Linked DNA regions of Homo sapiens. The protein of the gene in region 1 interacts with the protein of each later gene in a pairwise test. Each region holds a gene or a part of one and is shown on either strand. Other genes may lie near its edges.

Evidence for each region. Proteins that work in one complex are often made in the same cells at the same time.
Region 2: the proteins of LUZP4 (region 1) and BACH2 interact in binary tests that used the Homo sapiens proteins (3 or more experiments, as listed by UniProt).

What each region holds. Positions count from the first base shown.
Region 1 is NC_000023.11:115,284,896-115,292,722, reverse strand, and holds the start of LUZP4 (leucine zipper protein 4), read right to left. Parts: upstream 3,009-7,827; 5' UTR 2,964-3,008; coding exon 2,873-2,963; intron 1-2,872. UniProt on the Homo sapiens protein: Export adapter involved in mRNA nuclear export in cancer cells. Binds and enhances the RNA-binding activity of the nuclear RNA export factor NXF1. Can restore mRNA export function in cells compromised by loss of mRNA export adapters.
Region 2 is NC_000006.12:89,950,841-89,957,864, forward strand, and holds part of BACH2 (transcription regulator protein BACH2), read right to left. Parts: intron 1,023-7,024; coding exon 1-1,022. UniProt on the Homo sapiens protein: Transcriptional regulator that acts as a repressor or activator. Binds to Maf recognition elements (MARE). Plays an important role in coordinating transcription activation and repression by MAFK.

The DNA.
Region 1 (7,827 bases):
CTGAAAGCTTTTCTCCCTAAGATCAGAAACAAGTCAAGGATGTCCAATCTCACCGCATCTAATTAACATTTTGCTAGAAATTCCATCCAGAGCAATTAGTCAAGAAAAAGAATGAAAGGCAAGCAGATTAGAAAAAAGTAAATCTCTGTTCTCAGATATCATGATCTTGTATGCAGAAATTCCTAAAGATACACACACACACACGGAGATTAGCACTAATGAACACACTCAGCAAGGCTGCAGGATACAAGATCTATATGCAAAAATTAATTCTATGTACATATACCAGCAATGAACTATCCAAAAACGAAATTAAGAAAGCAATTCCACCAAGAAGAGCTTTCAATGGAGGAAAATTAGTCTTTTTAACAAGTAGTGTTGGAACAATTAGACATCAAAATGCAACAGAATGAAGTTGGCTCTTAACTCACCCCATATACAAGAATTAACTCAAAATGGATCACAGATGTAAATTTAAGAGTTAAAACTAGAAAACTCTCAGAAGGAAACAAGGGTATGATCTTCATGATCTTCTAGATTTGACACCAAAGCATGAACAACAACAAAAAACAGATAAATTGTATTTTATCAAATTCTGAAACTTCGGGACTTCAAAGGACACTATAAAGAAAGTTTAGGCCGGGTGAGGTGGCCCACGCCTGTAATCGCAGCACTGTGTGAGGCCGAGGTGGGTGTATCACTTGAGGTCAGGAGTTCCAAGACCAGCCTGACCTCTGCCTCCTGGGATTACAGGCATGAGCCATGGCGCCCCTCTTCATTTCATTACTTTTTTTTTTTTCTGAGATGAAGTCTCACTCTGGCACCCAGGCTGGAGTGCAGTGGGGCGATCTCAACTCACTGCAGCCTCCATCTCCCAGGTTCAAGCAATTCTCCTGCCTCAGCCTCCTGCATAGCTGGGACTACAGGCACGCAACACCATGCCCAGCTAATCTTTGTATTTTTAGTAGAGATGGGGTTTCACCATGTTGGCCAGGCTGGTCTCGAACTCCTGGCCTCAAGTGAGCCACCCACCTCAACCTCCCAAAGTGCTGGGATTACATGAATGAGCCACCAAGCCCAGCTGACCCTCTTCATTTCTATGGTACACTCTCCCTCCACTTATCCTGCCCCTTTTAAAGTTCAGCCCTCCCTGCTCTGCTCCCCTACCCTCATCTCTAAGGTGAACCCTCTTTCCACTGCTCCATCAATTTCTGAGGTCCACCCTCCTTGTTCCTGCTTCTCCTTGCTCCACTCCTGCGCTTCCACATTGAAGCTCAGCTCCCACTGCTCTGCCTCTCCCCCTCTCATTTCTAAAGTGGCCCTTGGCCAGGCGCAGTGGCTCAGGCCCACAATCCCATCATTTTGGGAGGCCGAGCCGGGAGGATTGCTTGAGGCCAGGAGTTCGAGACCAGCCTGGGCAACATAAGGAGACCCAATCTCTACAAAAATTTAAAAATTAGGTGGGCATGGTAGTGAGCACCTGTGGTTCCAGCTACTCGAGAGGCTGAGGTGGTAGGATCACTTGATTGAGCCTGAGAGCTTGAGGCCACAGTGAGCCGTGATCGTGCCACTACACTCCAACCCAGACAACAGTCCCTGACCTTATCTCAAAAATAACTAACTAGGCCGGGGGCGGTGGCTTATGCCTGTAATCCCAGGACTTTGGGAGGCCGAGAAGGGCGGATCACTTGAGACCAGGAGACCAGTCTGGGCAACATGGTGAAACCTCGCTCTACTAAAAAACAAAACAAAACAAAACAAAAAAACAAAAACCTAGACAGGTGTGGTGGCGCGTGCCTGTAGTCCCAGCTACTCTGTCGACTGAGGTGGGAGGATCGCTTGACCCCAGGGGGCGGAGGCTGCACTGAGCCAAGATGATGCCACTGCACACCTGCCTGAGAAACAGAGCAAGCACGTTTCACACACACACACACACCCCTAACTAAAGTAGCCCTTTTCTGTTTTGTCCTCCTTCCCCCATTTCTACAGTTTCCTTCTTCCGTGCTCTGATGCCCTTCTCCATTTCTAAAGTCAGCTTCCATCCTCTCTACTCAGCTCTGCTCACTCCCTATCTGGCTTGGAAAGTCTATTCCCTCCCCTCCTCCCCCATTTCTAAGATGGATAATAGCAGAGGAACTGGTCCAAGTAAAATCCACTTTTTCTGGGTTTGGTGCGAATGGAGGAGGTTAGGGGCCTTGATAAAGGAGTTCTTTTTTCTAAGGTTCCACTCTCCGTGTAGAGGTCTCAGGTTAGAGACTAGAGAGCGCCAGCAAAGAAAGGCTATCCAGAGCGAATAACCACCAGCCAACAAGCAAATAAATGGACCAACCACCCCTTCGAATAACCACCAGCCAACAAAGCAGATACACCAACCCACCAACAACTCCTAGCACTACCACGCCGGGATCCCTAGTAAAATAGCCTAAGGCTTGCTCCTCCGGGCCCTGGAATCTAGTGATTTATGACATCCGCTTGGACTGAGAAGAGCACTTGGCTCCATGTGTTTGAAGGAGGCCAGTAGTTAGGTATCAATTCTTAGGAGAGTAAAATACACGTTAATAGCGGTCTATTTTCTCCGCCTGCCCCTTTCAGCAATCCTTAATCCCCACGCGCTTCTGGTCAGCCTCCCTCAGTTCCCCACCTGAAAGGAGAGGGCTGGAGGTGAGGAGAAAAAGAGGAGAGGAGGGATAGGGGCCAAGTGGTCCCAGGGTTCGTCAGGGTGGGGCAGGTGCGGAGATGCCCTGAAGGGGAAGCCTCTCCTCGAACTGGTGTGTTCCTCCCGACGCCACTTCTAGTAAGCGCTATGCCGAGGTCTTGCGCTCAAGACCAGTGAGCCCAAACTAGTGGAGACTGGGATCCGAGATCTACATACCTAGAGACATATCTAGGAAGTTAACCTTTTTCCGACTGGGATGATTTGGCGGCACTTTTTCAGAAAGCGTTAGCTTCCGAAACGAAGCCATCTTCCCTGCATCATGGCGCCACACACTCCGAGGTAGGGCGCGTGTACCACCCCCTCACCGCGCAGGAGGAGCAGAGTGGTGGACTAACCTGATCCTCCAATCATAGCCTCTCCCTTCGGTGTTGCTAAGCCCCAAGGGGTGGAGCTTGGCGTTACCCCTCACCAAGTCTCCTATCAGGAGCTTGGCTCGCTAGAAGAAAAAAAAAGGAAAGACCCGCCCATCTCCCACCCGATACCCCTTTCTAAAAATATTCTCTCCACCTAGAGCACTATGTAGTTGGCTACAAGTTTCTAGTGTATGTGGTGTTCCGGCCCTTGCCTTTCACAGTTCCTAGGACCCATTTCTCCTCTTTGCTGTTGACATTCATGGCGAATAAAACCTTATAATCTTGACTTAATGGGCTGATGCTCTGCTTCTCTCAAATTCCAAGAGGGAGCACAAATTTAACATCTAGGGAGGATTCACAGGTTTGCAATGCCACACGCTTTCTTTTCTGTCTTTCTTTTCGTTTTTGTTTTTTGTTTTTTGTTTTTTTGAGACACAGTATCTCTTTGTCACCCAGGCTGGCGTGAAGTGGCGCCAACTCCGTTCACTGCAACCTCCGCCTCTGGGGTTCAAGCGATTCTCCCACGTCAGCCTCCCAAGTAGCTGAGATTACAGGAGCGCGCCACCACGCCTGGCTAATTTTTGTGTTTTTAGTAGAGATAGGGTTTCACCATGTTGGCCAGGCTGGTCTCCTGGGCTCAAGTGATCTACCCGTCTGTGCTACCCTCATACCACAGCGCCCACACTTTCCCTCCCTCCCTCTGTCCCTCCCTTCCTTCTTTCCTTCCTTCCTTCCTCCCTCCCTCCCTTCCTCCCTCCCACCCTCTCTTTCTTCTTCCTAACTTCTTTCTTTCCATCTGCCTTGGCATCCCTCCCTCACCGCACCTGGTTATTTCTTTTCCTTCCTTCCTTTCTTCCTTTCTTTCTTTTCTTTCTCTTTCTTTTCTTTCTTTCTTTCTTTTTCTCTTTCTTTCTTTTCCCTTTCTTTCTTTTTTTCTTTCTTTCTCTCTCTCTTTCTTCCTTCCTTCCTCTCTTTCTTTTCCTTCCTTCCTTCCTCCCTCCCTCCCTCCCTTCCTTCCTTCTTCCTAACTTCTCTCTTTCCACCCGCCTCGGCCTTCCTCCCTCACCACACCCGGCTATTCCCTTCCCTTCCCTCCCCTCCCCTCCCCTCCCCTTCCCTTCCCTTCTCTCCCTTGCTTCCTTGCTTCCTTCCTTCCTTTTTTCCTTCCTTCCTTCCTTTCTTTTTCTTTCTTTTCTTTCTTTTCTTTTTTCTTTCTTTCCTCGATCTGTTGCCAAGGTTGGCATGCCTTAACCTCCCAGGCTCCTCTTGGGCTGTAGAGATGGGGATCTCACCATGTTGGCCAAGCTGATCTCAAACTCCTGGCCTCAAGCAATCCTCCCACCTTGGCCTCCCAAAGTGCTGGGATTACAGGCATGAGCCACCATACCCGGCCTGCCACATGCTGTTCAATGACCTTGAAGATGTGTCCATGACATTTCTTAAGAAAAATGTAATTGTTCTTGTTATCACCTAATACTGCTCAATCAAATGCTACTTTAAAATATTAGAGAAATCTTGTCACTGGCTCTTCAGTAGAAATAAAAATCAAATTAATACATTTTCAAAGGTAAAAATATGTTCAAGCTATTACAGAATCCACAACATAAATAAATGCCGGAAGAGATTTTGAAAAATGTAAATTATTTAACTATTTATTGTATTTAAGTAAATGCTTCGCACCTGGGACCTAAAGATTAATAAATAAATCTGTTTCTCCATGCATATACAATTGCCTGAAGACAATAAATGCATGCAAAATATTAATTTAGGTGCTGTAATTTAGTCTGTCAACAAATACTGAGCTCCTGCTGTGTTAGGTTCTGAGGATACAGGTATGTACAAAATGTATTTGGGATTCAAAGGAGAAAATTCACCCAAGGAATCAAGAAAAAATTATTTAAATCCTGAGAAATTAGGGAATAATTGTAGGGGTGGGAATGGTATTTCTTGGCAGAGGAAGCAGCACCACTAACACACTGTGGAAAGTTCTATTCATTCCATGTGGTGGGTACTGAGAGATGAGTCTAAAGAGATCAACAGATATTAGATCATGGAGTGACTTTTATAATATATTATGCTAATGGTTTGGGCCTTTTTTTCTGTCAGATTTATTTTTCTGTCAGGTATGAAGTGAGAATGAAAGAGGATCAAAGATAGAACCCCAAGAAAATTAAAAAGAACATTGAGTAGAAAATATCAGAGAGATATGGGTAGAACCAGGAAAGAGGTATTCATTTATTAAGGGAGAACTCCAGGAGGAACCGACGGGTCCATCTTGTCAAGGGTTGATAGAAAGTCAAATAAGCTAAGAACTGATTAATTCATTAAATTTAGTAATTATGAGATCCGGTTTTTACCTTCAGCAGAGTTCTAGCAGGCTATAAACTGATAAACAACTAATTTTTATTTAACAAACACATAAAGCATTTACTATCTGCCCGGCATTGTTCTGAGAGCTTTACAAATATTCAATAATTTAATCTTCACAATAACCCCATGAGAAATAATATTATCTCCTTTTACCAGCAAGGAAAAGAAGGCACAAAGACATTTAAAAAATTGCCCAAGGACACAGAGCTGGTAAATGTTGCAATTACTTCAAACCCATGCAGTTCAGCTCTAAAAATCACGCTTGTAACTACTACCTTTACACAAGGTAGTATAGGGTGGTTTTTTTTTAATTATACTTTAAGTTTTAGGGTACATGTGCACAACGTGCAACTTTGTTACATATGTATACATGTGCCATGTTGGTGTGCTACACCCATTAACTCGTCATTTACATTAGGTATATCTCCTAATGCTATCCCTCCCCCCTCCCCCCACCCCACAACAGGCCCCATAGTGTGATGTGCCCCTTCCTGTGTCCATGTGTTTTCATTGTTCAATTCCCACCTATGAGTGAGAACATGCAGTGTTTGGTTTTCTGTCCTTGCAATAGTTTGCTGAGAATGATGGTTTCCAGCTTCATCCATGTCCCTACAAAGGACATGAGGGTAGTTTTTTTTTAATGGAAGAGATTAAATTAAACATGCTTATAGGTCATGAGAAAGGAGCTAGCAAAGAGAGACACATTAGAAATAAAGAAAAGGGAGGCCGGCCCAGTGGCTAACACCTGTAATCCCAGCACTTTGGGAGGCCAAGACAGGCAGATCACTTGAGGTCAGGAATTCCAGACCAGCCTGGCCAACATGGTGAAACCCCAACTGTACCAAAAATACACAAATTAGCCGTGCATGGTGGTGTGCGCCTGTAATCCCAGCTGCTTGGGAAGCTGAGGCAGGAGAATTGCTTGAACACAGGAGGCAGAGATTGCAGTGAGCTGAGATTGCACCACCACACTCCAGCCTGGGCGACAGAGCCAGACTCTGTTTCAAATAAATAAATTAAATTAATAAATAAAAATAAACAAAAGGAAGTAAGGAAATAATCAATGAATTTCCTTTCTCCCTAGGTTTCAGAATTGAGCCATAGTAGAGATGGGACCAGGAGATAACTTTGAAAGACATCGTGCTTTGCTTGAAATTGCTTGTTATTTGATTAATTTGATCTTGCATAACTTTCACTTCTCTTAGTTGAACTTCTCTGCCTTCATTCAAATAGGTTCTCTCAAATTCGAAGAATGAGCACAAATCTAGCATCCAGGGACAGACTTGCAAAACCACGCAGAAACCAAAGTGAGCCTTTTAAAACATCAGTCTTGGCGTGGTGCTCATGCCTGTAATCTCAGCACTTTGAGAGGTTGAGGCGGGAGGATCCCTTGAGCCCTGGAGTTCGAGGTCAGCCAACAAAGTGACAACAATGTGAGACCCCGTCTCTACAAAAAATTAAAAAATTAGCCAGGCGTAGTGGTGCATACCTGTGGTCCCAGCTACTCAGGAGGCTGAGATGGGGGGATCGCTTGAGCCAGGGAGGCAGAGGCTGCAGTGAGCCATTATCTCACCACTGCAACTCCAATCTGAGAGACAGAGCAAGATCCTGTCTCAAACAAAACAAAACAAAACAGCAGGGACAGTGTGGAATTCTGGCAACAGCAGTGGCAACAGCAAAAGCCAGTTTCTTGAGGCAGCAATGGCAGTGTTGCAAATCACAGTATCTAGTGTGTGGCAGTGGTGGCCTCTTCAGATTCGTTTTGATGTGTGATTTTAGCTAATACTATAAATTTCTCACCTCTCTTGGTTCCTGCACTTTTTCCTGAGCTTGATTCTTTAGACGTCATGGCTATTCCTTGAGCTATGTAACATAACAGGCTTTCAATAAATTTCTTCTATGCTTAAAGCAGCTAGGATTTGTCACATTCAACTAAGAACTCTTTCTATTGGCATCAAGAGAAATATAAAGGAGACAATTCATTGCTTTTTGCTTCAGTTTTGGGCACCAGTTGTTACCGGACAAACTGCAGTGAAACCAAAGAAAATCAACCAGGTTTGTGAGGAGATTTAAATCATGTCATCTGAAGCATGGTTGAAGAAATTTTGCCCGTAGAACAGAAATCTCAGGGGACCATAATAACTGTCTTCAAATAATTTTATGGAAGAGGGAGTGAATTTATTATTCGGTCTGGCAGGAGAGGGCAGCATTATCCCAAGTTGACCCAAATTACAGGAAAACAGATTTCTGCACTATATAGAGACAAACTTTCTAATAATGAAAACTAAAACAATGGGACGAAACTACAACAGGAGAAGCTGCATTGAACTGACATACTTGACACTGTGAATATTAAAGCAGAAGCTAGATTACTGCCTACTTCAATGA
Region 2 (7,024 bases), on another chromosome or scaffold:
TGTTTACAGAGAGCCTCCAACCCAGGCCCCCTGAGGGGCGACCCCATGGTGAAGTTGGACACCTCCTTCTGGCCCACGTGGGGCTGTCCATAATTCCCTGTGAAAGGGGTGTAGTCAGTTTTAAGGTCACCCTGAGTGATCCCCTTGTCAAAAGGGCAGGCTGGACTCCTGGCAAAGTGCTGCTGAGATGTACTGGGCAGGCCAGACAGCTCCACACTTTTCGTTATGCTGAACAGAGACCTTAAGCAGGAGGGCGAGGCCACGCTCCTGGATCTCTCCAGGCAGGCGGCCCCAGCTGGGGCCGTGGGGGTAGGGGCAGGGCTGGGCTGTTTCCGGTCCATCTCGACATCCCCCGCTCTGTCCTTGGCGTCAGGCTCATCTCCAGACAGGCAGAGCGTGATGCTCTCTTCCTCATTCTCTTCACTGGGCGGCTCACTTTTAATCTGCCCCCTGGCAAGCCCCGGCTTGAGGCTGTTGCTAGAGTTATCTTCCCGGAATGTGCTTGCAAAACCTGAGGTACTGTGTGATGATGCATTATAGACATTCTTGGTACATGCAAGCTGGTATTTCTTGTATCTGGGGTACTGCGTTAACGCGTCCTTTTCTGAGCTCTCCTTGGTGTCTGTGGGCACGTCAGGCTCGGGCAGCAGGGCTTCTTCCTTCTCTGCTACGGGGATGGCGGCGGCCTCAAAGCTGATGGGCTCTGGAAGCATCTGGTCCCTGGGGCAAGCCATCTTGGCCGTCTCTGAATCCATCGTCTCCTCCTCTTCATCCTCCTCCTCTCCTGCAGAGTTCTCGCAGTCCTCGTGTGGGCGCTGGCACGCAGCATCCTTCCGGCACACAAACAGGCCATCCTCACTGTTCAGGAGCTGGGTCTGCAGGAAGCTGAAGCAGGAGTCCTCCAGGTTGTGCATGCGCAGGAACTCAGCACAGCGGATGACCTCGCGGATGTTTTCTCTGCTGAGTAACAGCTTGGCAGTGTAGGCAAACTGTAACAGCGGCCCAAAGCCCCTGGCTGTGACCTGCAAAACAAACAGGGAAATCGCCAACATTACCATCAGCACTGCTATTGTCCCGAATCCCTCAACTGAAGCAAGATAACCAGACAGTGCTAATGTCCCAGAATAAAGACTGCAAAGGGGCAGTTAATCTTGTAGTACTGGGTCAGCAATGATTCTGCTTCCAATAATTAGTGCCTGTCTCGTGCATGCCACTGTTGTACTCCATCACAGCACAGGCAGAATTGAAAATCACCAGGGTCAAGTGGCTAAACAAGATGACAACGGGTTCAGTGTTTACACTAATGAAATATCCTGGCAAAAATGCACGGTGACAATGGGGAGCCTATTAATTTCCCTCCCAATCAGTCCTGTTGAGAGCCATTCTACACGAGGGGGGAGTGTTGTGACACTTCTTGCAGCTTGCTGGAGCCCAAGAGAGCCTTAACGTTTTCTTGTCAACCACAAAAATGGCAATGTGACCCTGCAAAAAACTAACTCCAGGGAGTTGTAAAAATAGGTTTTCCTCACTTACAATGTTAAAAGAGACATTAAAACAACTCCTGTTTTGCTCATCCATCACAGTTTCTACTTGAGACTTTCGGTCATCATGTCTACCTGATCTTATGATGATGATGATCTCATTATCTCACCAGAGATGACAACAATCAAAAGTGGTGTGCTCAAGATGAAATCAACCCCTGGCCCATAATGAATGGGGGTTGCAGAGTTAAACAAACCGGCTCTCATTTAAATGGTTGAAGCTGCTGAGTGGCACAGGGTATGGGCTATTCCTTCCCTAATTATTAGCAGCAGCTTTGCCATGCAGCTGTCTTTTTTTCCTGGTAAATCTTCAGGGGCTAAGCCTACTGTCATTTGCTGCTTATCTGTTATATTTTACAAAGATTGAAAGTGTGCTATTTATGCACAGCTTGCATATGCACACAAACACGTGTGTGCCCACACGCATGCCTGCTCACACACAATGACTTAGACAATTAAGAATATGTTGCCTAAGGCCAATTGTTTTTTCAGATGGAAATGGATTAAACTTGCTGGTGTTCATCAGGGTAAGCTTCCTTACCCTGCACATAAAACCACACATCCTCTAGGTTCTTGCAAGCACTGCTGACCACACAGGAAGGTGACGCATGTCTACAAATCCTGTACAAATCAAATGAAAGCAGCAATCATGGGGTCCTTGCTAGAGGCTATGGTAGCAGTGATACAAAATTTTAGCGGGGGGAGTGAGTGCACAGCAAGGTGAACTGGTAAACTTTGTAGCTGACTTCTGTGTGTATTAAACTCACCGCAGCATACAGAGCCAAAATTCTTGCAAGGACCTGTAATTGATGTTCAAGATTCAACCTGGACATTCACTCCTTTGGGAGTGCTCTCCAGTCCTCTTAGAGAGAATGAATGACATTGTCCTCTCAGCTCTCATAGCCAGATGAGGAGACGTGCTGGATTCTCCAGGGCAGCACTGATTTCATATCATTGCATTCTTTCCAGTAACGGAAATTTCTTAGACATGTAACTGAACGGGATTTTAATTGTTAATCTTTTTAAAGTACTCAAGTAAGATTCCACATTAAATTTTTCTGTCAGATGATGAGTCCAGAGATATTTGGTTAAAAAAACAAAACAAAAAGCCATGACTGCTAGACCCACATTATAAATTCTATATGGGCAATCAGTGCCATCTCCCTTTTATTATACCTAATTGTGCCTGTTTCTACCATAAGACAGCAAGCTCCTTCAGATCAGGAATGGTTTTGTCTGTCTTTGTAACCTTGCATCTAATCTAACCTGGGGTCTCTCACATGGTAAATACTTGTTAAAAGCTTGTATGTTACCAAATATGTCATGAGTCAAACTGTGTCCTAACATACTACTACTGTGTATGCAAGGTGACAACACAGTATGTTTAGAGAGTGTTGTCTCAAGTTACTTTTGGAGCAAGGCATCATGTAAACCAACTAACTGAACCGATCAACTGATCAAAGGCAGGCAGGCAAGGGTCTTTGTTTGCCCCGTGTCACAGTACCAGTATTAAAAAGGAGGTCTGACCGACACTTTTGTATCCTGCTAAGCTGACATGGTAATAGGTTCAGCAAATGTAGTACTGACAATACATCTGTTTTATGTCCTTTTCTTCCAAGAATCTTTAAAAGAAAGTAAAAAAGCAAGGAAATGTGTATTTATAGGTAACTGAAGAAGATGACAAGAATGTCACATGACCTATTCCTTTACTGCCACATGGCTCCACCACAAAGAAAGAAATGGTGAAATCAATGCAGAGTTGACCCCTGCCCTCGTAATGATCCTATGCTCCTCTGTAATGTGCCAGTTGCCAAAAGGGTGGATAAGACACTTCTTGAGTTTTGGCAAAGGTGCTCACTATATGGGAAATGTAGGAAACTAATTTCAATGCTATTTATACTGTTCACACAGTTTTTCTTTTTTTTTTTATTATTATTATGCTTTAAGTTTTAGGGTACATGTGCATAATGTGCAGGTTACATATGTACACATGTGTCATGCTGGTGTGCTGCACCCATTAACTAGTCATTTAGCATTAGGTATATCTCCTAATGCTATCCCTCCCCCCTCCCCCCACCCCACAACAGTCCCCAGAGTGTTCACACAGTTTTTCTCATACTCCCATCCTTATCACCATTTTTTTTTTTTTTGATGCTGTAGGTCTAAGTAAGTCTTACCACTATCTTCCACTGTGGCCTCTTGTAAAGAAAATTTCTAAAGAAGCCAGGGACATCCATGGGGATCTGTAGATCAGGAAGCAGTACTGGGAGTCACCCTCTGCCACATGGCTGCAAGGAGCTGGAGAAAGCATCTCCGCTCAGGGACGAGCTGATGCTTAAATGTATGAATTGGACCAAGGAGGTGAATGAGCAAAGTCTCCACATCACAAATCAATGGCACTCCTTAGATCACTGAGGCTTAGGAAACTTCCTGAGCTTGAAATGATCGTCATATGGTCATGAAAGAGTCATAGATAAAAAATCTGGTTTGTAAACTGTCACTTAAGCCCAAGGGCAGAGGAAATGGTGTCCTCACCATGAAAGTTCAAGAGCTCATAACTAGCTCTTCTCCCATTCTGGTTTCAGTCCTGCTTTGTCATATTTAAGTCTGCAAGATTTTGCTCAGCTTCTGTGTGTGAGGCTTTGTTTGGTGAGCCAGAATGACCATTTACCAAGTATCTCCTAGTGCCCAGCACTGTGCTCTTGTAACACCCTGCAAGGCAGGCATGACTGCCCTTATTCTGTAGATAAGGAAACTATGAAGCAGGGAGGTGAAGGAGTTTATCCATGGTCAGTGCTAGTCAGTGGAGAGCTAGGATTCCAAACCAAGTCCAGTCTGTTTCTTCTTCTGTGCTAGTGGTGTGAGGGAAGGATATGTGTAGGACTCAGGCCTGTGCTCAAGAGATCTAAGATTTAGCTTTGTAGAAGAGGTACAAATGATGAAAAGTTAACTAAGTAACAATGTAAGCAAGTCAACAATGGAAAAGCCATTGCAAGATTATATGAGTAGTTGTCAACTGAGAAATCCAGACAAGTTCAGGATAGGAGACTACTGAGGCTGAGGGGACTAGCAAGGGGGCCCCTTGAACACTTTTATCAGCACGCCTTGAGTGTCTGCTCTAGGTCAAGGGTTGCTTTGATACGATGGCTACTTTCGGAACTGTCACAAGGGTCCCTCCCAGGAACCCATCTCTGGTCTACTTTCGGCAGTGGTAATCGCTCCAGATACACAAAACAGAAAGCAAGTGCCCATCACACCTGCCAGCAAGTGTTACAACAGGCAGAGGCTTTCTAAATACTGGCTTAGCCTCCATCTTGAGAAGGTGGCACTGTCTACCCATTTTTAGGGACCATTTAAATTCATTCATTATACTCAGAAGGCAAATATTCAGGTACCAGTGAAAAGCTGTATGTTCATGAAACTGTGACCACAAGTCTGCATTGTTACTTACTTTTTGTTCTTAACAAATAAGGCTCTAATAATGGGAAAAAATAAGAGGGGGGTGGGAGGTGGAGAATTACACGCAAAACTAACAACTCATAAAATGGTATTTTAAAAAGTAATGATCATAAAGTTAAAATGGAATGAAGTGGCTATAAATAGAAGAATAGTTCCAACTCACTGATGTTAATGGAGTTGCATCCCTCTGCTCTAAGCAGACCCATCTAGACTAAAATCCACTGGTCAGCAGTGGCCTCAAGGTATGAGAAACAAATGCAAAATATGGTGTTAGGGACAACTTGGGATAACAGTCTTGCATTTTGAATGAAAATATTTTGAATGCCTCATTTCGAAGAACATTTTTTCATTGCACTTAAATATGTAACTACCTGGTCTCATACTGTGCAATACTCATTCTGATACAGATGAGATGGGATCACACATTGGGGCCAGAATACAGTGTGCCATGTGGGGGCGAGACCTCGGAGAAGGCAGAAAGTTAACCCTCCAACCTCCCACAGACTGCTTCCTAGGAGGTGATGACCTCAGCTAGCAGTTGGCACATAGTTGGTTCAACCCTGAAAGAAATAAGGCCAGGGTACCGTGTCCGATGGTGCAAGTCAACATGCTGACAATGTGTTGAAATTTGACCCACTGTAACTATGACCCTTAATCCTTCATTACATTGGATTCTAACATATCATCTCTCTGCTGAAAGGAAGATGGGCTGATGAAAACTCAATTTGTAGAGAAAGTTTGGGCACTGTTTGCAAAGCTGGGGAGCTCAGTGTTTTGGGGAGCTCAGTGTTTTGGGGAGCTCAGTGTTTCATGAGACATCCATTTTGCTGCAGGACAGAGTTTATGAGGATACTTACAACAGTTCCATCTCTGGACTATGATAGGGATGAGGCAGTCAGCCTTCAGGCATTTATTGAAAATAGGGTTTGAGGATTTTTGAGACTTGGAACATCATTCTCTATATAAGCTACATGACTAAGGTGTCTCCAGTTGGTTTTGGCAGTATATACACATGGCTGTAGCATTGAGCCCATCTGCAGAAGGCTGATCAGATGAATCCGGAGGACAGGTGACTGCTCCCTGGGAGAGGGCTGGCACGCTTCTCAAGGTCCCTTAATCACAACTTCACAAAAAAGGGAAACTTACATCTTCAGCAACACCATGTACACTTTCCTGATGAAGCTGAATCTCTTACACACTGCAGGAACCAGGAAGATAAAGGTAATGAACCCCTGCCCAAGGGCTTTTTAAAACGCTAGACCACTGACAACCCCTCTGGGTTGTATTTGCACAGCAAGGCACTTGTCAAATGATGAAAGCAATGCTGGTGACAATTAACTCTCCCTTCCCACTCTCTTACTGCACTGCAACCCACTCTGCAGGATGAAAACTGACTTAGTGATCAGGCATCACTCCTCATCTTAATTTTCTATAATTCATATCCACATTATCACATTCTTCTTCCAAAGCAGCATGCTAGACATTTAGAAAGTATTTGTCAAATTAATTCACCTTACTATTTCAACAAAGCTTCTGGTTATTTTAGTATTAATTTTTATTTTATCTATTTTTACAGACAGGGTCTCCCTATGTTGCCCAGGCTTGTCTTGAACTCCTGGGCTCAAGGGATCCTCCTGCCTCAGCCTCCCAAAGTACTAGAATTACAGGTGTAAGCCACCACATCTGGCCTCGTATTAATTTTATTTATTTATTTACTGACAGGGTCTCATACTGGTTGTCCAGGCTGGAGTGCAGTGGCATGATCTTGCCACTTACTGCAGCCTCAACCTTTGGGGCTCAGGTGATTCTCCCAACTCAGCCTCTTGAATAGCTGGGACTATCGGCATATACCACTATGCCCAGCTAATTTTTGTATTTTTAGTAGAGACGGGGTTTCACTATGTTGCCCAGGTGGTCTCAAACTCCTGGACTCAAGCAATCCGTCTATTTTGACCTCCCAAAGTATTGGGATTACAAGTGTTAGCCATTGTGCCTGGGCAATTTTATTATGAATTTTAGATAGA